Linked DNA regions of Homo sapiens. The protein of the gene in region 1 purifies or fractionates together with the protein of each later gene. This does not show direct contact. Each region holds a gene or a part of one and is shown on either strand. Other genes may lie near its edges.

What was found.
Region 2: the proteins of TMOD3 (region 1) and LRRFIP2 purify together in Homo sapiens (affinity purification with mass spectrometry; 2 studies listed by BioGRID and IntAct, with this or other methods). This does not show direct contact.
Region 3: the proteins of TMOD3 (region 1) and MYO5C purify together in Homo sapiens (affinity purification with mass spectrometry; 3 studies listed by BioGRID and IntAct, with this or other methods). This does not show direct contact.
Region 4: the proteins of TMOD3 (region 1) and PBX2 purify together in Homo sapiens (affinity purification with mass spectrometry; 2 studies listed by BioGRID and IntAct, with this or other methods). This does not show direct contact.

The regions. Positions count from the first base shown.
Region 1 is NC_000015.10:51,832,636-51,839,658, reverse strand, and holds part of TMOD3 (tropomodulin-3), read right to left. Parts: intron 1-7,023. UniProt on the Homo sapiens protein: Blocks the elongation and depolymerization of the actin filaments at the pointed end. The Tmod/TM complex contributes to the formation of the short actin protofilament, which in turn defines the geometry of the membrane skeleton.
Region 2 is NC_000003.12:37,052,567-37,059,589, forward strand, and holds the end of LRRFIP2 (leucine-rich repeat flightless-interacting protein 2), read right to left. Parts: intron 6,345-7,023; coding exon 6,224-6,344; intron 2,600-6,223; coding exon 2,520-2,599; intron 1,950-2,519; coding exon 1,845-1,949; intron 1,396-1,844; coding exon 1,285-1,395; 3' UTR 60-1,284; downstream 1-59. UniProt on the Homo sapiens protein: May function as activator of the canonical Wnt signaling pathway, in association with DVL3, upstream of CTNNB1/beta-catenin.
Region 3 is NC_000015.10:52,285,788-52,292,810, forward strand, and holds part of MYO5C (unconventional myosin-Vc), read right to left. Parts: intron 1-7,023. UniProt on the Homo sapiens protein: May be involved in transferrin trafficking. Likely to power actin-based membrane trafficking in many physiologically crucial tissues.
Region 4 is NC_000006.12:32,187,187-32,195,075, reverse strand, and holds the start of PBX2 (pre-B-cell leukemia transcription factor 2), read left to right. Parts: upstream 1-4,873; 5' UTR 4,874-5,160; coding exon 5,161-5,381; intron 5,382-6,279; coding exon 6,280-6,353; intron 6,354-6,571; coding exon 6,572-6,819; intron 6,820-6,919; coding exon 6,920-7,110; intron 7,111-7,293; coding exon 7,294-7,429; intron 7,430-7,680; coding exon 7,681-7,834; intron 7,835-7,889. Other genes in the region: GPSM3 (G-protein-signaling modulator 3), read left to right, coding at 2,563-2,604, 2,826-2,928, 3,168-3,367, 3,573-3,710. UniProt on the Homo sapiens protein: Transcriptional activator that binds the sequence 5'-ATCAATCAA-3'. Activates transcription of PF4 in complex with MEIS1.

The DNA.
Region 1 (7,023 bases):
AGGAGGATTGTTTGAGCTCAGGAGTTCAAGGCTGCAGTGAGCTATGATCACACCTGCACGCCAGCCTGGATGACAGCGAAAGCCTGTCTCGAAAAAAAAAATTGCTCTGAATTGACTATTATACCTAAAAGTTAATCCTAATGGTCAAATGGCAAGTCATAGGAATAAATAGACACCAAATAAGAGAAGACTGAGTGTGGTGGCTCACCTCTGTAATCCCAGCAATTTGGGAGGCCAAGGCAGGAGGACTGCTTGAGCCCAGGAGTTTGAGACTAGCCTGGGTAACATAAAGAGACCCCATCTCTATAAAAATTACAAAAAATTAGCCAGGCATGGTGGCACGTGCCTTTAGTTCCAGCTACTTGGGCAGCTAAGGTGGGAGGATTGCTTGAGCCTGGGAGGCGGAGGTTGCAGGGACCTATGATCACACCTGCACTCCAGCCTAGGCAACAGAGTGAGACCCAGTCTCAAACAAAATGGAAAAAAAAAAAAAGAGAGATACACCTATTTCTTAGCTGTCAATCTGCCAGATGCAGGGAACATACCAAAAAAGAGAAGGCATGGTCACTTCCTTCTGACATCAAAATAAGCATGTTTTGAGATGAACAACCCCAAACCTCCTTGTGTGGGGGGACCCACCCCTTATTCCAGTCCCTGTGAAATATACAGCCAAAGAAACAACATAACAAAGCCACATCTTTCACAGCTGTTTGGTACAGGGGTCACCACTCTCAATCTAACCAGGACGGATCAAATTCAATTCTTCTCCAGAAATCTGGAAAGCTGGGAGACAAAACTCAAGTTGAGACATAAGGTATCACCAAGTCTGGAGGCACTACCATAACAAGCTAGTCACCTTGAAGCTGAAGCTAAGGGGAAAGCACAGAAGGTCAGTCTGCAGGGAAGAGAATGAAGCAGGGCTGGGGCTACAGGGAAAAAGTAAAGGAGGCACCTGCCTCAGGGTGTCTCAGTATTTAATAGGGTGCAAAAAAGCTCAGCAATCAAGATAAATTACACAGTAATGCATACTATTTTTTAAAAATTAAAATTAATGTCCTAAAATGGAGCAGAGGCACAGAAAGAAGCCAAAGAGAGCCCTACAAGCAGAGAGAGGACAGAGACTTTCAAAGTGTCTGCTCTGGGTACCAGTGGTAGGTCATTTCACGGACCTCAGCAGCCTTACAATAGTAATGCAGTACAACTCCCAGCTCTGCCACCATACCATCTAGCAAGATAGCTTAAGTGGGTTTGTGTTCCCGGAGACCTAAACACCTTGACTAACATACTCTATTTGGGAAAATGAGACATGCACATAAAGTGCTTTTTGTTTTTTTCAAGAAAATATATAATTAACTGCCAAAAGAATGGTACTGGCTATTAGTGTACAGAAATTCAGAGATCACTGTGGGTGGTCAGGGAGGGACAGAATTAGCTACACAGAGAGGAGTGGAGAAGTATATACTAAACAAAGAGATCAAAGCACAGGCTGAAAAAGGTTGGAGCTGGGAGGGAATCCAGGGCAAGAAGAAGAAAAGTAAAGGGAAAGGAGCGATCTTCACACACCCTGTGTTACACAGAAGTAAGTACGCCTCCATGCTCTTCCGCCTGCAGCCCTTACATCACACGGTTCATTACACAGGAAATGTCCTTTTGCACTCTTTCTCATGTTCAAATCCTTTCACATCTTTCAGGGACCAGTTCAAGTAACATTTCTGCAGAGGCTCCCCTTGTGTGCTATACCAGATTCAGGCAGTGGGAGAAGAAAAGAGGAAACAGTTTCTTCTGAGGTAGGAGGGAAGGCTAAGGGGCTTAAAGCAGTGCCAGCTATTCTCTGGTGGAGGGCACACTATATCACTTGGAATGCTGGCCAATGTCTAAGGAAAGCAGGAAGTGAGATGACTTGACAAGGAATAATAATGGGGGTTCAAGAAAAGTGGCAGAGGAAAGGCAAGCACAGAGGGTGTGCTGAGGACTAACAGAAGAGCCCACCTGCCCCGAAGGCCTTGCAGAGGTGAAATCCTACACATCTGCCTTGGTCCATTTCTGTGTAGGGTTCTGTAATTTTTCACCAAGAAACTGTAAATCTTAGGGACAACAGGAGAAAAACAAAAGTGGGGTGGGCATGACTTTGAAATCATCACATATTTATTGCTATTTCCAGTGAAATTAGACCCCCAACTCCTCAGCTGGTCTAGCACTCAAGTGGGCACATTAAAGAGGAAAAAAAAAAAAAAGAATAGTTCCCTAAGAGTATTAACCTGGGTTAATTATAGCCCACCATGAATGAAAATAAATCTTGGGGGTTGTATCATATCTTGTCACGTTTGCCTCAGGGTAAGGGCTGCCTGAATATAAGCCAGACTCATATACATTTGAGGGGCTTCTTCTGAATATTCCTTAACTCCTCATCAAAGTTTTACCACCACACCCAGGGAATGAAAATATTTTGTTGGCTGTAATTTTCCACATGGATGGAAATCCCCTACTGTATAAGTATCACTAATAATATCCTGCTCAAAAGAATTGCTATGCTATGGTTAAGGAAATACAACAATCTTCTTACCTACAAGTCTATATATATATATATCAAACCCAGCCCTCATTTTCTTCTAGTTTACCATGTTTTTATTCACTTTCTCACAGACACTTCAGGAACTGTGTTCACTTGTATGTACTTATCATGATGTTCATGCTTAGTTATGCCCAGATATGAAACTGTTTATTTGTAGGGGGTTATCATCACTGTATATGTTACCTTAGTTTGTAAGTTTGTCTTAGTGTGTTTGTGTTCCTTCCTTAGTGAGTGGGTGCAGGTGTTGAACATATATACCCGAGGCAGTGGATATCTTTATAGCTCAAAAAGGGTGCACATCTCAGGAGGAACCTTGACTGTATTTCAGTATTTTTCTTTTTTCTTTTTTCTTTTTTTTTTTTTGAGACGGAGCATCACTCTGTCACCAGGCTGGAGTGCAGTGACATGATCTCGGCTCACTGCAACCTCCACCTCCCAGGTTCAAGCGATTCTCCTGCCTCAGCCTCCCGGGTAGCTGGGACTACAGGTGTGTGCCAACATGCCTGGCTAATTTTTGTATTTTTAGTAGAGACGGGGTTTCACCATGTTGGCCAGGATGGTCTCGATCTCCTGACCTCGTGATCCACCCGCCTCAGCCTCCCAAGGTGCTGGGATTATAGGCGTGAAAACGAATTCTTAAGAGTAGTATAAGGGTGAAAGAAGCCAGGCACAAAATATGACATATTATATGATTCCATTTATATGAGATGTCCAGAAGAGGCAAATCTTAAGAGAGAGTAGATTAGTGGTTGCCTAGGGCTGGGTGGGGGAGACCAGGGGGGAATTGGGAGGAATTAGGTAGTAACTGCTAATGGTAAGGGGTTTATTTCTGGTGTGATGAAAATGTTCTAAAATGGTGGTGATGGTTCTACAGTTCTGAATGTAGCAAAATCCACTGAACTGTACACTTTAAATGGGTGAATTGTATGGTGTGCGAATTATATCTCACTAAAGCTGTTATATGTTAGAGAAAGGGGGAAGGAATGAATAAGGAAACCAAAGTTGTCCTGCATTTCCACAGAAAGGTAATCCTGTCTTTGAAAATCTTAGCTTTTTTCTGCTTCTATTTTAGTTAAGCTTTAGGATTCAAGACTCCTCACTGGTAAGTCCCCAGTTGTCTTTTCTCCATCTCTAATCTTTGTCTTTACTAACAAGGGTGATCTACCTAAGGGAGACAGCATTCACTAGTTACAACTCAATCTCTGAACAAAAAACAATATGCACACTATGATTACAATCATATAAAAATACGTATGAGAATGAATCAGGCCTGGAAAGAAATGAGGAAAAGTAAAAATAGCTACATAAGAATAATGAGGTTGGGGTGACATTCTTTTTAAAACTTAGTGTATTATCAGCAAATAAACTTAGAAGAAAAAAATAACCAAACTGTCTCCCTAAAAATTGTTCCAAGGCAAATTCAGAAATTGCATCACAAAGGATTGGAATAGACAATGGAGTAGAAACATGGAAACTAAGGCTGGGTGTGGTGGCTCACGCCTGTAATCCCAGCACTTTGGGATGCCAAGGTGAGCAGTTTGCTTGAGCTCAGGAGTTCAAGGACAGCCTGGGAAACATGATGAAACTCCATCTCTACTAAACATACAAAAATTAGCCAGTTATGGTGGTGCATGCCTGTAGTCCCAGCTATTAATACTTGAGAGGCTGAGGCTGACGGACTGCTTGAGCCCAGGAGGTCGAGGCTGCAGTGAGCCAAGATCACACTACTGCACTCCAAACTGGGTGACAAATTGAGACCTTGTCTCAAAACAAAACAAAACAGAAAAAGATGGAAACTAAAACACATGGCTTATATATAATTGCATCTATTTAGATCAAGCCAATAAACAAGAAATATTAAGCTCCCTATAGCTTGCTATGTTGGAGTCCTAGGTGATCTTTCCTTGCTTACATCTCCTTCATTCTAAACATCTGCCTATTTTATAAGGAAGATGCAATTGCTTCTAAAATGAGGTTGTCTCCATTAACTCGACCCACAGAAAAGCCATTTAAAATTCAAATTCATACTTAACATTCTTCCATCAGGAAATACATGGTAACTAGCCCTGGATCAATCTCAGTCAAGTCCCAATCTGGAAGAGGAGCATAAACATTTAATTTTTAAGGTCAGGGTCCGTGCTTAAGAAACTGACAATATAAGCACAACTAAAATGCAAAGTAGCTCAGCTGACACGCTAAGATGCCAAGTCAATCTAATGGAGAAAAACAAACAAAAAAGAGATGTGTTCTGTTTTGTCTTGAGACAGGGTCTTACTCTGGCCCTCAGGCTGGAGTGCAGTGGCATGATAACAACTCACTGTAGCCTCCACCTCCCTCAGATGATCCTCCTGCCTCAGCCCCCCAAGTAGCTGGGATTATAGGTGCATGCCAGTACTTCCGGCTAATTTTTGTATTTTTAGTAGAAATGTGGTTTTGTCATGTTGCCCAGACTGGTCTCAAACTCCTGGGCTCAAATGATCTGCCTGCCTTGGTCTCCCAAAGCGCTGGGATTACAGGTGTGAGCCACTGTGCCTGGCCGAGAAAGGGAAGTTTTTCTTAAACCTATGTTGCTGGAACAACTAGATATCTATATAGGTGGAAAATGAACCCAAACTCCTATCTTATATCATAACACAATAATAATTACTTTGAGATCAATCACAGACTCAAATGAAAAACTTAGAAAAATAAAGTTTCTAGAAGAAAAAGCTTTCTTTGCAATCCTGGGCACTGGTAAAAATTTATTGGTCAGGACAAAAAACACTAGCCATAATACAAAAAATTGATAAAACAGACTTTATAAAAATTAAAAATTTCTGCTCATCACAATATCATTGAGAAAGTAGACAAGGGACAGACTGTATAAAAAAAAACTGTCAACACATCTATCTCTATATGTGACAAAGAACTTGTACCTTGAATATATAAAGAGCTCCTACAAACAATAAAAAGATGAATGACCCAATGAAAGACTAGGTAAGACTTGAACAAACAATTCACAAAAAAAGATACTGCATAGCCAATTAACATATGATAAAGCACTCAACATTCTTAATCATCAGAAAAATGTAAATTAAAACCATAATGAGGTACAACCATACATCCTGTAGTGTGACTAAAATTGAAAAGGCTGACAATACTAAACATTGGCAACACTAAAAATACGGAGCAAGTAGAACTCAGTATAAACCACTTTGGAGAACTGTTTGGCAGATTTTTAATAAAGTTAAACATACACATACCCTATGACTCAGTAACTCTGCTCCTAGGTATTTATCAAGAAACTTGTAAAAGTATGTTCATAACAATCTTATTCCAAATATCCATCAAGGAGAAAATATAAATTGGGGTACATTCATACAATGGAATACTATTCAACAACTTAAAAGGACAAACCACTGATACTTGCCAACAACATAGATGAATCTTTCTTACATGAAAGAAGCCAAACACAAAAAAAGCACATGCTGTATGATTCCATTTATGTGAAGTCCAAGACCAGTCAAAAAATCTCTGTAGTGTCAGAAATCTATGGAGTCAGGAAGTGATTGCCTTTGGAGGAAGGTGGGTGAGGGAACTTTCTAGGGTGACTTAAAAAAAATGTTTTCTATCTGATTTTGGTAGAAGTTACAGTGTATACAATTGTCAGAACTCCTTGAACTGGATATTATGTGCATTTTATTGAATGTTAATTATACATCAATAAAAATACAAAGTAGCAATGTGCTTCAAGATACAGACTAACAATTTTGTTTCAAATGAAATTCAAGACTACACAAATGCATCTTCAGTTACACAGCATTTTCAATCATGTGCCATTCTGATTTATTCACACTTCTATTCTTTGATCATTGTAAATAAGCTAATGGATTACAGACACATATAGATAACAGAATGTATGTTCACATACATAATTTTTTATAAACACCAAATTAAATTTGATTGTTTACAATTTAAATAAGCACTTAATGGACCAGTTATAGGCCCAGTAGAATATTCTATTGTCTATACCATTTTTCTCTCCATATATTTGTGATTTTAAAGGATCTGACATAAAACTGCATGTAAATCAAATGTCAGCAAGGACTATCAATGACCAAGGGATGATAGCGCTTTAGCCACACGGCCTAGAGAATAATGCCCTCCTCATCTACTCTAATCGAGAGAGCTCATGCATATTAAAGAGCAACTGAAAAGTGTGAAGAGTAGTTTGCCAGCTACAACACAGCCTAAATATCAGTATACATCAGACTGACACCAGAAAACCTTACTAAAAGCCTTTTTTTCCTCTACTGTTTACTGGATCCTCCTCTTTATCTTTCTCCCTCCCTCTATCCAGGTATACTTTTATCCGCAAAGCCTCTCATCCTCCCTGTGATATTGCTCAGATATAATTGATTTTCTCTTTTGTTTTAGTTTTTGAGACAGGGTCTTGCTATGTTGCCCAGGCT
Region 2 (7,023 bases), on another chromosome or scaffold:
AAAATCATCTCAATTCAGAAGATTGGTATCCATATTTTTTAAATGAAGGGCTAATTAAAAAAGGAACAAATATTAGAGATTTTATTCACTTTTGAGTTACCTTTTTAAAGTCTAGTTTTATTATCTTATGTGCCTTTAGTCACTAGATTTTCCCCCAATATATTTTCTGTGTAAGCACTTTAAAGATACAATAATCATTTCTATAAAACCACCTGGGTACTAAGAGCAAAAGAGAATCATAAATTCTGCAAAGTAGTTGCACTCCATGATTTTAAAAAAACCTCTTGGACAGGGTACCTCTAAAGGTGAAACTCAAGTCTTTAAAAGTTCTACATTCCAGATTGTTTTTCCTTGAGAAGGAGACAAAAGAAGAGGGATGTGGTTGCCATGATTTGTTTTAAAGTCTCCTATAACAAAATGAACATGTCAGTAGCCAATTGTGGTTGGCAAAAGGGTGTATTTAATAGAATCTGCAGGCAGATTTCCAATCTGCCTGCCCTGCCCTACCCTCCCCCTTTGGGTTTGTTTGAGGTTTCATTCCACAAATAAGCAGCAGATAAAATACTTTACAAGGTACAGCACAGTTGTATTGAAGAAAAAAAGGACCCAACTCTTACTTTAGGAGTATTAGGCCTGGACTTCCCCTGCCCCATGCAATAAAGCAAGTTTTATATACACTCCCCATATTTTTTTCTAACATTTTCTTATATAAATTTAAATATTTTACAAAAAAAGGCTTTTTTCCTCCAAACATATAAATCTGAGTGAAACATAGATTCCCCACCCGAGAACTTGTTTCTTCACTAAAATATAAATGTTGTCTGATATTAAGGGTAAATGTCTTTTGACCACTGGAGATCACTGAAGTCTGAATTGCACCGTGGAGAAGGCACTTGTGTTTTCTGAGGTCTCCAGCAAGTATCTCAGTGAGCACTCATAGAATTGCTGTCTGTCCTCCAGAACCCGTGCCAAGGCCTCCGAGTGCCCAGTTACTGAGGCAGCTGGGGAAAAACGTTGAGTAAACATGATTCTACAATTACGGAGATAAAAAATAAAAACAGCATGGACTGGTTCTACCCTAGAATCAAACTACAACAAAATCCAAAGTGTTCATTCATGTAGATTCAAAATGACTTCATTCTGTCATAAATTATAAAATACAAAGGTGGCTGTTTTAATGACAAAACTCAAAACAGTACTAAAAGGGGTTTGTGTCAATGGACAAAAGTCAGTCCCTCTAGGTAGGGCCCCAAGGAGCATCACCCAGGTTGAAGGGTGGTTTTCCTACTGCTGGGCCAGAAGTGCTGTCCTATTGGCCTTCATCTTCTCCAGCCGCTTGGCCAGGTGGCTGTTGGTCATCTCCATCTCCTCAATCTTGTCCAGTGCTGTTCGTAACTGGAGACAGGGAGAATGCAGTCACTACATGTGGTCAGAAACAACATCCAGTGCTACTCTATTTTCAACTTCCTGGGAAATGAAAGCACTGCTAACTGTGATGGCCTTGCACAGGACCCACAACCTCATTTTTTCTATCAGTTAGAGGTGTTAAATGATGATACTGAGGATTGTTTATTTGTTTTAATCACAGAAAGGATATATAGAAGTTGGAGAAATAGACCTGATCTGAAGCAAAAATACAAACTATCTTTTTACTTAGTATCTAATTGACCAAAACATAAAAGTAAATGGCAGTCACTATGCAGGTCAAAAACCAACACAAATTAGTTAAGTGACTCCACTGCTGTTTCCTTAAGTATCAAATTTCTTACACAGCTAAGAATTATTTCCAGAAGATTTTTTCTTTTTAGGAATGTATTCTCCAAGAAACATATTAAAAGAAGTACCTCTCGTTGTAGCTTCCGTTTTTCTGCTTTCAATTCATCTTCAACTTTCTCAGCATTCTCAGCAGCAGTTTTATATCTCAGAACCTGTCCCTCAAGCCGGCTAATCTGTAAGTATGAGAACATAGGCCTCTAGTACTGGGCACTAGAAGTCACCACTTTTTGGTAGCCAGGATGGAAATACAATGTCATTATAAATGCCAAGTAATCTACTAACAAGTCCCCTAAGGGTGACTCATAAGTCCTCTCAGAACTCAGTTGCTATTTATAAATCAAGTAATGTCCCCAGAGAGGATTACAGCTGTAGAGTCATTTTAGGGCCAATTTCCCATGCTAAGTTTTATTATGACCATATTGTTTAAGTGCCAAAGCAATATAGGAAGAGACACTAAATGGAAAAGTTCTTACACTTTTTGGAATGCGTAAGGGATTTTATTACAAATGATGATCTTGAATTCTCCTGAAATATCTACAAAAACTGATAGCTATAGTTTCCTATGGTTTTAGAGAAAACAGAAGGCTAAAATGTCCCAACAAGTGCTCTCTGCTGGCTTTTCTATTTTAATACAGAACTATTATTGATCCAACTGCAAAGGCAACCCAGGCACTCATGGGTTGTTAGCCACTTAGATGCAGGAAGGACATTTAAATAACTTAGTACCATATAGAAGTACTTACACTTTGCTCCAAGGTAGTTATATCCTGTTCTGCTTTTGAAAGCTTAAATTTGTATTCGCTAATTTGTCTATTGGCATCTCCTAGAACAGAAGAAGACAATGAATTATCTTCACCTGTCAGAGATGACAGTATGAGCCATCAGGCAGTACCTCTGTGGCACAGAGAGGACCATGCAGTCTTAAGATTACAAAATACAGGGCTGGGCGCGGTGACTCACGCCTGTAATCCCAGCATTTTGGGAGGCCGAGGTGGGTGGATCATGAGGTCAAGAGATAGAGGCGACCATCCTGGCCAACATGGTGAAACCCTGTCTCTACTAAAAATATAAAAATTAGCTGGGCGTGGTGGCACAGGCCTGTAGTCCCAGCTACTCGGGAAGCTGAGGCAGGAGAATCACTTGAACCCGGGAGGCAGAGGTTGCAGTGAGCTAAGATCGCGCCACTGCACTCCAGCCTGGCAACAGAGCGATACTCCGTCCCCCTGCCAAAAAAAAATTACAAAATACAAATGCACACACAACAACCACAGCATCTTCAGCAGCCCAGGTTCTGGACTGTATATACTACAAGATGCTCTAGCATATATGTTACTACAGTATCCCTTGCAGCAAGAGTTAGAAGAAAATTCTTTACCCTATGATATGTGTGAGCAGGGCTTGAGAAAGGAGCCCTGCCAATTCAGCAGCAGCCCCTACCAACCCTGTGTGTAACCTTGTGGAGCCTCCCTGCCCACGGGACTGGGCCCTCTAGTTCCCTGAACGCGGCCCCATGCCTTCCCATCTCCCAGGTTTTGCTTCTGCTGTCCAATACTGTAAGGGTCCTTTTCTCCCACCTCTGACTTGCTTCAAGGCCAAGCTCAATTTTCACCTCTTTCATGACTCCCCTTAATTATAAGTCCTTCCCTTGCTGTATTTTATTTGCATTTTTATGACATTTGTCATGCTTTTTAAACATCGTATGTGTAAGCAAGAAGAGGGGCCCTGTCTTGGCCTTCCTAAATCTACCTATGTACCTAGCCAAGTGCACACAGTGTATGCCTAAATAAATATATGTTGGAATAAATGCTGTTCAGTAATGTGATAATGTGTTATGGGTAGAGCTATAAGTTACTAGATGAACATCTGACCTAGGAAGTAAATCACTTAAAATGAAAAGTTTAGAAATGATGGCAGGGGACTTTTAAAATCCCTCCAAGAATCCAAGTTTAGCAAAAATCAGTCTCTGGCATGATTACAGTAATAAGATTTGCAAAAGATAAACCAAATCTAACATACCACAGGAAATATTCAGATTATCTAACTTAAGAACTTTTCTACATTTCCACATGACCAAGGTTACAATTACTTATACAGTCTTCAATGTGAGAGGTTTTTCTTTTTTTTTTTTTGAGATGGAGTCTCGCTCTGTCGCCCAGGCTAGAGTGCAGTGGCGCGATCTCGGCTCACTGCAAGCTCCATCACCCAGGTTCACGCCATTCTCCTGCCTCAGCCTCCTGAGTAGCTGGGACTACAGGCACCCGCCACCATGCCTGGCTAAATTTTTGTATTTTTAGTAGAGACGGGGTTTCACCATGTTAGCCAGGATGGTCTCGATCTCCTGACCTCGTGATCCACCCACCTCAGCCTCCTAAAGTGGTGAGAGGTTTTTCTAATTGGACAATTACTGTCACCTTAAAAGGAACAGGGTTACCATCTCCCCAAAAGCCATATCTGGTAGTGAAAGAGAAGTATTCCTATTTCTGAGCCCTAAAACAAGCTTCAGGATCTGATTTTTAAATTGTTATCCTCAGCAATCTATTGATTATCCAAATGTACTTCTTCCTTCTCACTCTCCAAACCACCTTTCCCTTCCTGTTTTCAAAAGTTTAAGTCTCTTATCTCAGTAACTTCATGTGTGTTTTGAAATCCCATTCCAAAACACTCTCATAATAGGCAAGGCACCATCCAGAACCAAGAGTTGCTCCACTCCTGGCCTTCTGGTCCAGGGAAGCTGCTTGCTTTTGTCTTTGCCAGCTTTCCCACAGTCCTGCAAAGCTCACTTTGTTCTACACCTCCTGCCTGGGTACTTTACCTTCTGCAAATACCAGCTATACAACAACCTACCTACTCTAGGAAGTATTCACACATAAATGCCAGCCCATTCCCCCTAAATCTGTTTCCTTTTAAATTTGCTGCTTAAGGACAATCTCTCAGATCTATTCCCTACCCTCTCTCTAAGACTGCTGACAGCTACTGAACTGGTTCAGGCTCACCACTGTAGTAGCTTCCTAACTAGTCAGCCTGCCTTTTCCCATGTCCCTGTTCTCATCTACCGCCAACACCAAAATGACATTCTTGAACAAAATATTCACCAGGAAATGTCACAAGTGTCCTAACTGATGTCCAACAGAAAAGATAATACCAATATCAAAAGTTAGTATTAATAAGCCTTAACCCAAAAAGTCTTTTCTCTTTTTTTTTTTTTTGAAGAGACGGGTTTTCACCACATTGCCCAGGCTGGTCTCAAACTTCTGAGCTCAAGCAATCCACCACCTCAGCCTCTCCAAATGCTGGGATTATGGGTGCGGGCCACCACGCCTGGCCCCAACATGTCTTTTCTTGGCAGCCTATCTCAGAAGGTTTAGATGAAAAGTCCATGGAATAAACAAGATTTTAATATTAGTTATCAGAAAAGTCACTATTCTTATTGGAAAAATGAAAATCTCCTCTGTCCGAGAATTACACATAATCACTAACAAAGGCTAACTACAAATTCCTGCTGAAATCTTCCTACTATGGGAATTAGTGTGACTGCAGTGATCATTTTATTATGAGGTCAGAAGTAGAAAAATGAGAAAAACTGGAATAATTCGGGTAAAATGAATAGAATAGACTTTATTTTGTGGACTTATTTTAAATTTCATCTAATAAAGATAAACTTGGATTAACAAAATACTTCTAGGAAAATTCTGAAACTACTCAATTTAGTGTGAAGTAGTTCCAAATAGATTCGTCCAATTATCCAAGACAAATTCCAGAGAAAAAACTTTAATGGGGAAGGGTGCTTGCTGTATGGGAGCTTAAAGATGACAAATGGATGTGGAAAAGGACAGTGCCAGGTTGTCAAAAGGCATTTCACTGTGTGCAAAAAGTTCCTAGAAATCACTTTATCCAGAAAGGGTAAGAGCAATAAACCTCATTATCCCCTGAAGCACACAGGCTAGTGGAGCCTCTATTCAGCTATATTGCTGACTAGGACTGTTTTTCTGGACTAGCCAAGGACTAACCAATTTTTGCAGCATAGCTCTTCTTAAGAAAAGCATATTAACGGCCAGGCGCGGTGGCTCACGCCTGTAATCCCAGCACTCTGGGAGGCTGAGGTGGGCAGATCACCTGAGGCCAGGAGTTCGAGACCAGCCTGGTAACTATGGTGAAACTCTGTCTCTGCTAAAAACATAAAAAACTAGCCGGGCATGGTGGCAGGCGCCTATAATCCCAGCTACTCAGGAGGCTGAGGCAGGAGAATTACTTGAACCCAGGAGGCAGAGGCTGCAGTGAACGGAGATTGCACCACTGCACTCTGACCTGGGTGACAGAGTGAGACTCCCATCTCAAAAAAAAAAAAAAAAGAAAAGTGTATTACAAGATACCAGCAACCTGCTGACAAACCCACCCCTGGGACACAGTCTATATACAGACTGGGACTGGCCTGTCCCCTGGTACCTACTCTGCATTTCGATGAACTGCAAGTCTGAGCCATTCTGCAGTCCTGCCAGGTCACCCACTGTGCCATCATTCCTGGAGCATTTCTGTCGTTCCTCCTCTAACTGAAGCTTCAGTTTTCTAATCTGAAATGAAAATAAAGGTTCATCAGCAAGATCCAATCTCTCAAATGAAGCCGATGCTTATTCTATGGTCACATCATAGAACAAAGCAGACCCTTATCGTATCAGCCACATTCATTCAAAACCTATTTTCTTGAGTGCCTAATAGGAGACACACATCGTCCTAGGTGCTAAAGATAAGCTACGAACAAACATCGAAAAGAGCAAGCCCCAGGACCAGGTGTCCCAGTAGAAAATAGCCATATTTTAAATTTGTGTCTGCTTATGGAACAGTACATCTTTGGGGTATTTTTTGTTACTTTTATTTAAAATGGAAAATTCTAGCCAGGCATAGTGGCATGTACCTATGTATCAGGCTACTTGGGAGGCTGAGGCATGAGGATCACATGAGCCCAGGAGTTTGAGACCGACCTGGGCAACACAGTGAGACCTCATCTCTAAAAAAAATAAAACAAAAATATAAACAGTTAACTGATAGGGTATATTCAAGAGATTATTTCTTAAAATGGAAGATTCCATGAGCAGTTTTTTGTTGTTTACTTTTAGACATAGGTTAAATTTTCTTACTTAGAAAACATCCTGTATGTAAAAATAATTGGGGCTGGGCACGGTGGCTCACGCCTGTAATCCCAGCACTTTGGGAAGCTGAGGCGGGCGGATCACAAGGTCAAGAGATCGAGGC
Region 3 (7,023 bases), 450 kb from region 1:
TGGAGTGCAGTGGCGTGATCTCGGCTCGCTACAACCTCCACCTCCCAGCCGCCTGCCTTGGCCTCCCAAAGTGCCGAGATTGCAGCCTCTGCCCGGCCGCCACCCCATCTGGGAAGTGAGGAGCATCTCTGTCTGGCCGCCATCCCATCTAGGAAGTGAGGAGCGCCTCTTCCCGGCCGCCATCCCATCTGGGAAGTAAGGAGCGTCTCTGCCCAGCCGCCCATCGTCTGAGATGTGGGGAGCGCCTCTGCCCTGCCGCCCCGTCTGGGATGTGAGGAGCGTCTCTGCCCGGCCGCCCCGTCTGAGAAGTGAGGAGCCCCTCCGCCCGGCAGCCGCACCCTCTGAGAAGTGAGGAGTCCCTCCGCCCGGCAGCCACCCCGTCTGGGAGGAGAAGAGTGTCTCCGCCCGGCAGCCGCCCCGTCCGGGAGGGAGGTGGGGGGTCAGCCCCCGCCAGGCCAGCCGCCTCGTCTGGGAGGGAGGTGGGGGTCAGCCCCCCGCCCGGCCAGCCGCCCCGTCCGGGAGGGAGGTGGGGGGGGTCAGCCCCCCGCCCGGCCAGCCGCCCCGTCCGGGAGGTGAGGGGCGCCTCTGCCCGGCCGCCCCTACTGGGAAGTGAGGAGCCCCTCTGCCCGGCCACCACCCCGTCTGGGAGGTGTGCCCAACAGCTCATTGAGAACGGGCCATGATGACAATGGCAGTTTTGTGGAATAGAAAGGGGGGAAAGGTGGGGAAAAGATTGAGAAATCGGATGGTTGCCGTGTCTGTGTAGAAAGAGGTAGACATGGGAGACTTTTCATTTTGTGCTGTACTAAGAAAAATTCTTCTTCCTTGGGATCCTGTTGATCTGTGACCTTGCCCCCAACCCTGTGCTCTCTGAAACATGTGCTGTGTCCACTCAGGGTTAAATGGATTAAGGGCGGTGCAAGATGTGCTTTGTTAAACAAATGCTTGAAGGCAGCATGCTCGTTGAGAGTCATCACCACTCCCTAATCTCAAGTACCCAGGGACACAAACACTGAGGAAGGCCGCAGGGTCCTCTGCCTAGGAAAACCAGAGACCTCTGTTCACTTGTTTATCTGCTGACCTTCCCTCCACTATTGTCCTGTGACCCTGCCAAATCCCCCTCTGCGAGAAACACCCAAGAATGATCAATAAAAAAAAAAAAGAAAAAAGAAAAAAAAAAAAGAAAAACTAACAAACAAACAAACAAACAAACAAAGTTCACAGTTACAAGTACTAGACTAGGACAATGCTGGATGAGGAACCTATCTATTAGTTAATATAAATCGCCTTACTTAATCAATAAAACAGAAAAGTCACTGGATGGATATCAATCATGACTACCCCTAAATCATTTGAGTTGCTTTAATCCTTAACAGCTAGCAAAAAGCAGAAGCTTGCCGAAACGTGACATGGATGTGTAAGTTTTGAGAGAACGAGAATGGAAGAATGACCTGGCAGGCAGTGACACACACTCTTGTGCAGATAGGACGATGGAGGCCTCATAAAGAAACACACAGACACGCCTGTCTCAGGCACACACACCCACACCCATCCTTGTTGCCACGGGCTACACAGCTCCTACCCCAGGTCTGCTATTGAAAATATTTATTACTAACGTCATGAAGCTTACTTCATTAAAATGGATTAGGAATGGGATCCTCATAAGAGACACCTGAGAGTTGGATGTATTTTCTACAATATGTACCTATTACTTTCATAATCAGAACAATGAATGTTAATCTTTAAAGGCAAATATCAAAATATATGCCCCCCAAAAGAATTGTACATGAATTACCAAATTTATCAAGAATTGGCCACTACAGAGTCTCAGAACTGATTATCTACTCCAAGTTGTTTGTCAAACTCCTTTTTAGAGCTGCAGAAAGCCTACTTCAAAAGGAAGTTCTGGCCAGGCGCGGTGGCTCACGTGTGTAATCCCAGCACTTTGGGAGGCCGAGGTGGGTGGATCACCTGAGATTGGGAGATTGAGAATAGCCTGACCAACATGGAGAAACCCCGTCTCTACTAAAAATACAAAAGTAGCTGGGCGTGGTGGCGCATGCCTCTAACCCCAGCTACTTGGGAGGCTGAGGCAGGAGAATCGCTTGAACCCGAGAGGCGGAGGTTTCTGTGAGGCAAGATCTTGCCATTGCACTGCAGCCTGGGTGACATGCGTGAAACTCCGTCTCAAAAAAAAAAAAAAATTAAGTTGTAACAGCTGGCTAAGCGAAGCTGGTGAAAGTGGAGGTGTTCTGATGGGAGCTGGAGCTGAGAGCCCTGGGGGCCTTCCAAGGAAGCCTGGGCTCTGAGAAGTAATGTGAAAGTCACTAGGCCAATCAATCCTTTTGTTTAACAGAGCCCCTAACTGAAGCCCAGAGAGAAATAACTCACCAAACAGCAGACAGAGTCTCAAAGGACCAGGACTCCAGCAGAGCTAGGGCCTGTGACTCCTAGTTTGAACTCCGTATTAGTTAAGCGAATCTGGCCCTGAAAGTAATCCTGAACTCTGAACTGCAACCATCTACTTGAGAGTCCATGTGCTCTCCTAACTATAATTTAGGATTGGTTTCAGCTAAAAGTGGTATTAAATGGCAGGCAGTATTAGGACATACGTAACCACTGACGGCTTCTCTTCTGAAGACCAGTGACTCCTCAGCCCAGTACCCCAGGCCGCCCACACCCTGCGATCCTGGTGCTTCTGCTGGCATTGAGTGCCCTGCAGCTGAAACCCAGCCTGGTAAGTAAACAACGGTGAGTTTACTCAGCTCCGGGTAAGTTCCACCCATTCATTCCTGTCCCCTCCTCCCTCACATTCCTCTACCCACAAAGCAATGCTTCAAACTGGAGGAAGAGTTAACTTTACAGCATTCATCCAAACAGATGCAGTCCGCAGTTCATGCAAACAATGTAACCAGCTGTCAACTGACCTCCAGAATATGGGGCCTTCCCATGAGGCAGGAGTCTGTGGACTGGGATGGAACAGCTCGCCAAGCCCTTCAGCGGAGCCAGGAAAGAGAGGGCCACCTCCCAACTTCCCTGAGTGCCCTCCCCATGCCAAGGCGCCAAGCTGAGGCAGAGGCTCGGGACCACTGAACCTTATGAGCTCAAGACCATGCCAGCCACCCCCCCAAGGCACACAGGTGAGATGAGAACAGCATCTTCTCACGCCGCCTGCTTTTCTGAGGGATCTTCTGGCATGAGCCACAGAAATGACTTGAAGACTTATATGGAAGATGGGACAAGATGGGACGACATGTGTTTCCCTCCTAGAACCGCTTTCTGGACTGGGAGTGTCCACACTCCAGGTCAGCCAGGCCAGATTGTCACACCATGCCCCTCTCTTCCTCCTCCTCTTCATTCGCTCCTCATGGGCCCCTCCCCTGGCTCCCCTGCCCCTCCCACTGCCCCCCATGTCCGTGTCTCCCAAGGTCCTTCCCAGCCTCTTCTCATGATAGGCTGTTTCTGGAGAGTTCCACCCAATTCCACAGCTTCTGCAACTGCCTGGCACCTGTGCATCTGAGACCTCCCACCCAGATCGTGCACTGGAGCTCTACACCACATTTCCAATTGCCTCCAAGATGTCAGCCCCTAAATGTCCTCATAGACTCATAAATTCCAAACTCCAGTGATGCCGACGCTCCTCCTTCCTAGCTCTCTTGCCCCTCATGTCAGAAGCCTGGGACAGTGCTGGGCACCCCTCTGTGTCTCCACCCCAACAGCCCAACAGTCACCAGGTGCTAGAAAAGACTGCCTTTTAAAAGCCCTCTCCTGTCCGCCCCTGCCTACCAGCCCCCTTGCCATGGCCATAAGTCAGCCCCCAACCCTACCCCCACCAATCCTCTCTTGACTGGTGCAGCAGCCCCCGGAGGCTTCCTCAGCCAGGCTGAGCACGAGGTTTCTTTGGGCAGACAGACTCTCTCATCCGTACTTGATTGGAATTCCTGTGGGTGGGGCCCGGCAAGAGAAAAGCTTTGAAAATCAACCCCCACATGGGTTTTGAGGAAGAGCCAGGCCTGGGCAACCAGCATTCTGGCCAATTTCCTGCTCAGGCCTCACCCTCTTTTCAATCCACCCTCTGCCTGTGGCCACCCAAAACCACTAGCACTTTCTGGAACATGGCAGGCCTTCTTTGGCTTTCTGCTGTGTACTTCTGTTCCTTCCACCCTAGCCCCACCCATCCTCTCCCCATCCAAGAGCAAACAGCTCTGAACAGTCTGGAGTAGCTGGAGACACTCCTCATCTTGGCACTCTCCTTGCCACTTGCCATCTAGCAGAGCTGGATGCTTCCCTTGAGCGCTCTCTGCTCCTCCCCCAGGTATCTAGGCTGCCTCCCATCTCCCCCACTGGCATTTGAACTTTAAGAGCCTGGTCTTTGTGCTTGGAATCCAATGCAAAGGCTTCCCATAACTAGCACTCCATAAACAACTTTTGAACAAAAATTCAAATTCCCAGTGGTTCAGTTGCACCAATTAAAGACTAAGTATTTCAGTCTTTTCATCCCTTTTTTTCTCTTTGAACTACCCATACATAATACAATGGATACATTTAATTTTCCAGAGTTGTTAATGGTATATAGAAGTCTAAAAACTATTTAGAATTAGCCAAATTAAAAAAAAAATCGTTACGCTGAACTTTGACCTCATTTTAGACAGGGGCCCTGGACTGCTAGTCAAGACACTTCTTTTGACCTTGCACATCTGAGTTTCAGCAGAACTTTGAAGATATTTGTGAGTTCCTCTTGCACAAGTGAAAGAAACAGATGGTGGAATGACTGTAGTGAACCTGTCACTACACAGTCATAACCTGAGTTCTAATTAATGAGCAAGAGCAACCTTTAGGAAAAAAAAAAAAAAAAGGTCTCCAGAGGCATGCCACAGAGCTCTACCGCCTCCCCTTTCATTCAACACTTTCACCAGTATCGTAGATGAAAAAACAAAACACATGTATCAAACAAGCAGATGAAATGATTGATTAGCTAAAGATGATCAAGATTCAAAAGGTTTTTACAAGCTACAGAAACGCTGGGCACTAAACAAAACAGAAAATTTTATAGGGATAAATGTAAAGTCTGTATTTAGGTAAAAAAAATCAACTGTATTATAATAGCATCAGTATTTGAGTAATCTTTATTAAGCATTATGTGTCAGGTGCTGTGCTAAGGATTTTACACGCCATTAATCCTCATAGTGACCTCCTCAGCTGGTAAGCATGATTCAGTCCATTATACTGGTGTGGAAACTCAGGTTAAGTAACTTGCCTGGTGTCACCCAGTTAGTAAGGGGCAGGACCAGGACTTGATTTGACCCACCAGGGGCAGAGCATGTACCAGCTCTGCTTAAAGCACTAACATAATGCCAGGATACACTGAGGGATGCTCACAAGAAGTTGCACCGTACTCATGGCTGAGCAGATCAAGGCTAGAGAATAGTGCCACTAAAATGGGCATCAAGGTGTGAAAATTCACCCAGAGGAAGGTGGCCTGGATGCTGAGGGTCTGGAATGATGCTGTCAGAGAAATGGTTGGTGGCACTGTCACTCTCCTCAAGCCGTCTGTCCTACCCACCCTTCCTGCTCAGCAGCTGTCAAGCTCTCTGGGCTTTCTTCCTTCTCTGTCAGTATCTCTGTGCCTTCAACTCCTGCCACTGTGGCCTCAGGCCCTCACTCCTTTCTGAGGTTAACCCATGCCTGGTGCCTTTCTTATGTCTTCAAACTGCAGTCCTCTGCTGGTTTCCTCCCTTTCACGGGTCATGTCAGACTTTCCCTTTCCCCTTCACAGTTCTACCCAAACAGAAACGACGCCAGGGACCAAAACTAGCGGCCAAACCTAACAACCCATCCCCAGCCTTCATCCTTGTTGACTTCTCTGCAGCTACTAGAAAGAAAGACCGTCCAATCTTTAGGCAGTGATATGTGTGGTCTTTTTTCTTTGTTTGCATATTTTATGTTTTTTTTTTTTTTTTTTTTTTTTTGAGACAGGGTCTCGCTCTGTCGCCCAGGCTGGAGTGCAGCGGCGCGATCTCGGCTCACTGCAAGCTTCGCCTCCCGGGTTCACGCCATTCTCCTGCCTCAGCCTCCTGAGTAGCTGGGACTACAGGCGCCTGCCACCACGCCTGGCTAATTTTTTTGTATTTTTAGTAGAGACGGGGTTTCACCGTGTTAGCCAGGATGGTCTCGACCTCCTGACCTCGTGATCCGCCCGCCTCGGCCTCCCAAAGTGCTGGGATTACAGGCGTGAGCCACCGCACCCGGCCGCATATTTTATATTTATCTTCATACAGTATATAAACTGTTGTGCCCCATTTTTCACATAACCATGTTTTCATGTTATGAACTCTTCAGAAATAGTACTTTTAATGGCTTCATGCTGTTTTACCATGTGAATCTTCCATAATTTACTTAACTTTACCCCTCTTGCTGGACACTGGGATTGGTTCCAATTTAGTTATTATAAGGAAAAATACAAATAAGCAGGTGTCAGGAGAGGTAGGTAGAAAGTGGATGAACTTCTCACAAGCCCACTGTGTGCGGGGAAAAGGTCAGATCCCTTGAAGAAGAGGAAGATAATAAAGGCGGTTGAACCAAGGTGGTGGTAGTGAGAGACACTAAGAACATAGGTTTTCAACTCCGGCTCCATCACTTGTATGTTACCTTAGCAACTTACCTGACCTGAGCCATTTCTAAAAGTGTGAGATCATCTAACACACAGAGTTGTTTATCCAGATTAAATGAGAGGCGGCACATGAAACTCTGAGGATGGCATCTAGCACATAGAGATAAAAATAACATCATCCATATCATCGTCTCCATGGTCCTAGCTATTTCTGTAAGCAAAAACGTTCAGTCATGCACACAGGTGCACATCAAACATTTATGAAGCTCCCACTGTCCCCTGCTCACTGAAAGCTCTTGGTCAATAGTGGAGACACAGAGTTCACGAGCTGTTACCAGGCAATATGGAAGGCACCGTGTGGAGGGGCTAGCTGCAGAGGCTTTCTCAGAAGAGGTCCTGCTCAAATTGAAGGT
Region 4 (7,889 bases), on another chromosome or scaffold:
GTCCCCACTGCCCACAAATGGCTGACAAATATTTATTGGGCACCTACTATGTGCCAGGCACTGTGTAGGTGCTGAAAAGTGGCCAAGGGCCACCCCCGCTGATGACTCCTTGCATTCCCTCCCCTCACAACAAAGAACTCCACTGTGGGGATGAAGCGCTTCTTCTAGCCACTGCTATCGCTATTTAAGAACCCTAAATCTGTCACCCATAATAAAGCTGATTTGAAGTGTTACCTTTTTTTGGAGGAATTGGGGAGAAGAATGGGAAAAAAGATGGGAGTGACTGCATAATGTCAGCATTTTGTGCTTTTGGCTCAGCATTTGGATTGGATGGAGGATGTAAGTATAGTTTAAAAGCAAGAATAAGTATATTTAGGGGCCCTATGATAATTTAGGGTATTATCTGAAAGCAAGAATCTAGTAGCCAAGGGAGAAACCGCACACACTAGGTCAGGGGTCCCCAACCCTTGGGCCACAGACTGGTACTGGTCCATGGCCTCTTAGGAACTGGGCCACACAGCAGGAGGTGAGCAAGCATTACTGCCCAAGCTCCACCTCCTGTCAGATCAGCATAAGCATTAAATTCTCATAGGAACTCGAACCCTATTGTGAACTGTGCATGCAAGGGATCTAAGTTTCTCGCTTCTTACGGGAATCTAATGCCTAATGATCTGGGGTGGAACAGTTTCATCCTGAAACCAGCCCTCCGTCGCCACCGACCATGGAATAATTGTCTTCCACGAAACTCTTCCCTGGTGCCAAAAAGGTAGGAGACCACTGCACTAGATGATGCACACACTTTGTCCCTCATCCTAGGGCTTTTACTTATGGCCACTTAGGAGATTCCTAAGGCCACAAGTCAAGTAGATGGAGAGAGTATCTTGAAACTTTGTCCACCTTGCAGCAATATGTTGCTAGGTTTGAAACATGGAGTCATGAGGCATTTTGAAAGCCAATAATATCTACAGTTTATTAAGTATTCACTATGCATCAAGTGCTTCATTACATTATTAATACATCAACCCTATGAAGTAGGTGCTATTAAAACCCTATTTCACTCAGAAATTGAGGCACAGAGATCTGCCCAAGATTGCAAGGAATAAGCGGCAGGACCAGATCTCTTCATCACATTTCACATTCCAAATCACTCAGCTATAAACTCCCTAACATGACAGGTTGCCATTTAGAGGTACCAAATGGTTGTCTGCCCTGCTCCTTCCTTGATGCCAACCAGCCTGATTAGCATTGATCAAAGACCAAGCCAGAGAGGTAGTCCTCTCCCTTTTCAATTTCATTTCATTTCTTTCTTTTTCTGAAACAGGGTATTGCTCTGTTGCCCAGCCTGGAGTGCAGTGGCACAAATGGCTCACTGCAGCCACAACCTCCTGGGCTCAAGCAATCTTCCTACCTCAGCCTCTCATTGTTCCATATCTATATCTCTTATGCCCAAAATAAAATTTCCCCTGCCCCTTGTCTGCACTAAACTATAAGTTTCCAAAATGAACCCTTCCCGTACTCTATTTGGTACACATCTTGTCTCCTGAATAGAGTGTATTTTTTATTTTATTTTATTTTGGAGACGGAGTCTCGCTCTGTCACCTAGGCTGGAGCGCAGTGGCACAATCTCAGTTCACCGCAACCTCCGCCTCCCGGGTTCAAGCAATTCTCCTGCCTCAACCTCCTGAGTAGCTGGGATTACAGGCGCATGTGGCCACGCCCAGCTAATTTTTTGTATTTTAGTAAAGATGGGGTTTCACCATGTTCCCCAGGCTGGTCTCCAACTCCTGAGCTCAGGCAATCCACCCGCCTCAGCCTCCCGAAGTGCTAGGATTACAGGTGTGAGCCACCGCAGCCGGCCATCTCCTGAATAGATTTTAAATACCTAGAGGTCAGGGATGATTATTCAATACATATATATTGAATACTTACTATGTGTTGGACCCGGTGCTAGGGTTTTATGTATATATTTGAGAGCTCCACATCCCTGGATCTGAATCCTCCACTTCCCACTGGAACCATGCCCCTCCCAGTCCCGGTAAGTAAGAGGGAAGATCGGGAGGGCCAAATCCTACACCAGGGTCTATCTTAGGGAGGGAAGGGACCTGGCTGGGGGGAGGGGGATTCTGAGGAGTGAAACCACTTCCTGTGTAGCTAGTTCCTGTGTTGACAGAAAGAGCAGAAGAGGAGGTGGGGTGGAGGGAGCAGAGCCAGGGATTAGGGGACTACTGAGGCTCTGGAGATGAGACCGCCAGGAGTCCTTCCCCACCATGAGCCCCCTCCACTCCTGCAGCTGGAGGAGTTTTTCCCAGTCTCAGTGCTGCCCTGGGGCGAGAGAGACTGAACAAGCTGTTTGGGTGGGAAGAGAATGGAGGAAGTTGACAGGGATGGGCGGGGCCCGTGGGGGGGCTGACCAGGAACCCAGCTTCCTGCTCAGTACCCAGGCATCCAGCCCCCAGCTCACCCCCACCCCTTCCAGCCCCCACTCCCCTCAGGAACCCAAGGTTCCAGCCCTCCTCCCAAATCCCAGCCACCCCTCCCCCACCAGTTTCTCCCCTCTAGGGGATGGAGGCTGAGAGACCCCAGGAAGAAGAGGATGGTGAGCAGGTGAGCTGGGCACGGGGTTGGGGAGGCTGACACTGGGAAAGAAGGGAGGTGAGAGGACCTGGGGCAGAAATGTAGGGACACAGGGGCCTTGAAAGGCTTGGGCAAACTGAGGCAGGAACAGAGACACACAGAGAGGAAACGGGCCACTGGCCTAGCCCCCTGTCCACTCCTCCCGCTTCAACCACCACTGCTTGACTAGAATGGACATATTTTGGCATCAGGGCCCCCCTCAGGATGAGGAAGGCTGGCCCCCTCCAAACTCCACCACTCGGCCTTGGCGATCTGCTCCTCCATCCCCTCCTCCTCCAGGGACCCGCCACACAGGTACCCCTACCCACCCAGGGAGAGCCCCGACCCTAGTGCCCACATCCTGACCCCATTACCAAGGCCCACTCCATTGTGGGCCCTCTCCCCACCTCCTCCAGACTCCCCTTGGGATTCCCCATTGCACCCCCTCTCCTCTGATCCAAAGTCCCTAATCACGTCACCCTGTCCACACTCCCCCACGGCTCCTGTCTGCCAACCTCTCTGGGTCTCTGAGCCCTCCACACCCCTCTCCCCAGCCCTGGGACCCCGCTCGGCCTCCCTGCTCTCCCTGCAGACTGAACTCCTTCTGGACCTGGTGGCTGAAGCCCAGTCCCGCCGCCTGGAGGAGCAGAGGGCCACCTTCTACACCCCCCAAAACCCCTCAAGCCTAGCCCCTGCCCCACTCCGTCCTCTCGAGGACAGAGAACAGCTTTACAGCACTATCCTCAGTCACCAGGTAAGACATCCCCCCAGGAGGCAAACCCAGGCCTCCTGGTCTCTTGGCCCCTGTTCTCTTTGGGGCTCTACTCCTGTTTCTCCCTAGGCACCCCATCGCCTTCACAGGTTTCCTATATGCCTCCCCATACCAACCCTTGATCCTCTCAAGAACCTCCTCCTCTCAGACCCTCACCAAAGCTCTCCCTCTCCCTCCACTCCTCCAGTGCCAGCGGATGGAAGCCCAGCGGTCAGAGCCTCCCCTCCCTCCAGGGGGGCAAGAGCTCCTGGAGTTGCTGCTGAGAGTTCAGGGTGGGGGTCGAATGGAGGAGCAAAGGTCCCGGCCCCCCACACACACCTGCTGAGACTTGAGCCCCAACCAGCCCTTCCTTGCCACTGGTCTCAAAGCTGGGCAGCCCATTGCATGCCCTCAACTCTTGCTTGGCAGGGGTACCAGAGACTGAAAGACACGGCACAAATCTCAATATTCATCTCCCACATCACCTTCCCTGGGAACTGGACAGGGTGAAAGTCCTCAAACTCTGGGAACAGGCGAGATGGAACAGGGATTTAACTCCCCGCCCACAGGTCCATGGGAGCTTGAGGCAGTAAGGGGGATCCCAGGCACCCATCTCAAGGAGTGGCTGGGAGTCTTTTCCCTAACTTGTGGGGACACCACCAGTTGTCAAGCTACTAGGCAGTAGGGTCTGAGGGCTCAGGCCTCCACCTGAGAGGTTATAACCTGAGAGACAGCTCTACCCTTCCTCCCAGTAAGAAGGGAAGGTGGGTGGGCACCTGAGAGATTAAGACTATTCTCCCAGTCCCACTACCAGCACCCCCGATCCCTGAGACTGAGGGGTTTACGGGCTGTGAATGGACCTTCAGCCCTGCCCACCCTCCCTCCCCACTGCTGCTGAGTCTGTCTGATGTTTTGGTTGTGTGAATAAATATAATTCCCCTCTGGACTGCAGACTGGTATCTGGGGGGCCCAGGCGGGGTGAAAGGTAGGAAGGTGAGGCCAGAGGCCTTTTCTCTCCCCAGTCTGGCCAGAGGCCAGCTCCCCTCCCCGGCTGGTTAATTACTGGCTCATTAAGCAGCGGCTGGAGACCTCCCTAATTATCTCCCCCAGCCCCCCTCTTCGGTTTTAATTAAGTAGAACAGGGAGGGGAGTCATTAGAACAAGAAATATGAACTGAGCTGCCGGTGAACCCAGGCATTCCAGCGGCCTGAGTCCACATCGCTTAGATCCCTGATTCAGGACCCAGGTGACAGACGCCCCCAGCCGCCAACACAGCCCCACTCCTAGGCCGCGGAAGTCCAGCCAGGGGGCTTTCCCATATCTTTCAGATGGCCCGTCTCCTCCCCTCATCCCCTCTTCCCTCTCCCCTCCTCCACTAGGTCTCAGTTCCTCTGTTTCTGTGTCTCTCTCTCCGCCCCCAGCTCCTCCCTGTTCCTCCTCTCTTCTCCCCTCCTCTTCCTCTCCGGCTCCCCTCCCCCAGCCTCCCTCCCTCGCTCCCCCCCCTTCTCCCTCCTCCCTCCTCCCTCTCTCTCACACACACCCCCGCTTGGGCCTCCTCTCTCTCTCCGGCTCCATTTTCTCCGCCGCCGGGGGCCGGGGTCTCCTGTGGGGGGCCCAGCCGGTATCCCAGGTCTCCCTTCAGTGCCGGGGTGAACCCCCGGGGGAGCCGGGAGCCGGGGGCAGACGGGCGGGGGTTGGGGCGGAGGGAGCAGCGGCCCCAGCGAGTTTGGGGGGAGAAGTAACCAGGCGGGGGGAGGGGCGGAGCAGGGAGGGGGCCTCAGGGCCCCCCCCCAGCTATGGACGAACGGCTACTGGGGCCGCCCCCTCCAGGCGGGGGCCGGGGGGGCCTGGGATTGGTGAGTGGGGAGCCTGGGGGCCCTGGCGAGCCTCCCGGTGGCGGAGACCCCGGTGGGGGTAGCGGGGGGGTCCCGGGAGGCCGAGGGAAGCAAGACATCGGGGACATTCTGCAGCAGATAATGACCATCACCGACCAGAGCCTGGACGAGGCCCAGGCCAAGTGAGTGCCCCCACTCCGGGACCCCACACAGACCCAGCAAACCCCGTTCACATGTTCTGAATCTTCTGGGAGCCCCCCCCAACTCCAGGGCCCTCTCCAGGATCCAACAGCTCTCTTCTCTCCTTATTCCTGGGAGCCCATAGAAAAGTGATCCCTCTCAAACCTCCCTTCACCCCCAGGCCCTGAAACCTTCACAGAGGGAACCCCCGGTGGCCCGGCTCCCCACTCCTAACCTTTTGCCGACCCCTGCAGTCTCCTGGAACAGCCCCATCCCCGGGAGCCCCCTCTGGCTCCCAGACTAAGAAACTGTTCTTGGGCTACGTTATCTTCTCCCCTAACTCTCCACCCAGCCCCCTCATTCTCTCCAGATGTGGAGACCTCCACACCCTCTCCAGAGCCCCTAAAGCTCCTCTCCACTGCTCAGCCAGACACTAGGTGCATCAAAGCCTCCCACCTGCTCAGCCCCAGGACCCCTTCACACACCCTACACTGATCTCCCCAGTTAGCTCGGCACCCCCAGCCCCACTCTGCCACCTCAAACTCTGACTCTTCTCAACCCCAGCCTCTGTCTCTCTCCCTCTGAAACCTACCAAGTCACTTTCCTTTCTCCATCCACTCCCAGATTCCTCCTCCTACCTTTCTAGACCATCTCCCAAAGCCCGCAGCCTTTAACCTGCTGCCTGCATCTTCCCTGTGTCTCCCTGAAGCTGAGGAGCTTCCCCATGCTCTGGGAGCTGATCTTTTCCCAAGAACTCCTCATTCCACCCCCAACTCATTCCACCCCCAATCCGCTTCCTCCCTCCGCAGACTGACCCTCCTCCCTCCTTGTTCTCAGGCCCCCTGCTCTGTTTCTCTAGCTCCTCAACTTTTCTCTTTCCCCACTCCCACTCCTCCCAAGGAAACACGCCCTAAACTGCCACCGAATGAAGCCTGCTCTCTTTAGCGTCCTGTGTGAAATCAAGGAGAAAACTGGTATGTGGGCCCCCCCCGGATTGCTCAACTCTGGGAACAGAACCCTGTTCATTATAGGGCTAGAGTGTGACAACTTGGGGCCCTGAGGAAAGTAAGGAGTCAGGGGGACTGGGGAAGGAACCAAAGCCTGGGAACTTGGCTCTCCAGGAAGCACCAGGAGGACTGAGCACTGGGTATTGGGGTCTCTGGGTCCCTAAGTCCACTCGCCTGCATGCTAGGCCTCAGCATTCGGAGCTCCCAGGAGGAGGAGCCGGTGGACCCACAGCTGATGCGCTTGGACAACATGCTTCTGGCAGAGGGTGTGGCTGGGCCCGAGAAAGGGGGCGGCTCAGCAGCAGCAGCTGCAGCCGCTGCAGCCTCTGGTGGTGGTGTGTCCCCTGACAACTCCATCGAACACTCGGACTATCGCAGCAAACTTGCCCAGATCCGTCACATATACCACTCGGAGCTGGAGAAGTATGAGCAGGTAAGGAGAGGAGGCTTGGGTGGGTGGAGGGAAGGGCTCTTGCAGGGGAATCCCATGGTCAAAGGGCTCCTCCTCACCAGCCCACTGGCCCCCACTACAGGCATGTAATGAGTTCACGACCCATGTCATGAACCTGCTGAGGGAGCAGAGCCGCACCAGGCCCGTGGCCCCCAAAGAGATGGAACGCATGGTGAGCATCATCCATCGAAAGTTCAGCGCCATCCAGATGCAGCTGAAGCAGAGCACCTGCGAGGCTGTGATGATCCTGCGCTCCCGTTTCCTGGATGCCAGGTGGGCCCAGGGACCCCAGGCTGGCCCCCAGCACTGGGCTCCTTCCCATTCCTCTCCAAGACCCTGAGCTGCCATGCTGCACAACATGGTACTCCATGACAATGGTGACTCTGGGGTCATGCCATGTGACAGCCCTGCCAGGACATCAACATCCTCCTCACTGCTCTTCTCCCTCCTCTGTAGACGAAAGCGCCGTAACTTCAGCAAACAGGCCACTGAGGTCCTAAATGAGTATTTCTACTCCCACCTGAGTAACCCATATCCTAGTGAGGAGGCCAAGGAGGAGCTTGCCAAGAAGTGTGGCATCACCGTGTCTCAGGTATTATGGAGGTTGCGGGAGGAGTTGTCAGGCAAAGTGCACGCATCTCAGCTAGGTGCAGTGGTGTGTTCCTGTAATCCCAGCTACTAGGGAGGCTGAAGTGGGAGGATCACTTGAATTGGAGACCAGCCTGGGCAACAGCATAGTGAGACCAGGAAGCAAAAAAAAAAAAAATGCTGTCACTCACATCTTATTCAGTGAAGGACTTCAGAGGCAAATGTTTCTACCTGACCCTCCTTTCTGCCCCACAGGTCTCCAACTGGTTTGGCAACAAGAGGATTCGCTATAAGAAAAACATCGGAAAGTTCCAAGAGGAGGCAAACATCTATGCTGTCAAGACCGCCGTGTCAGTCACCCAGGGGGGCCACAGCCGCACCAGCTCCCCGACACCCCCTTCCTCTGCAGGTGGATCCCACTGTCACCCCGGCTGACTGTTTTGCACACTTCCTGCTTTTGTTCC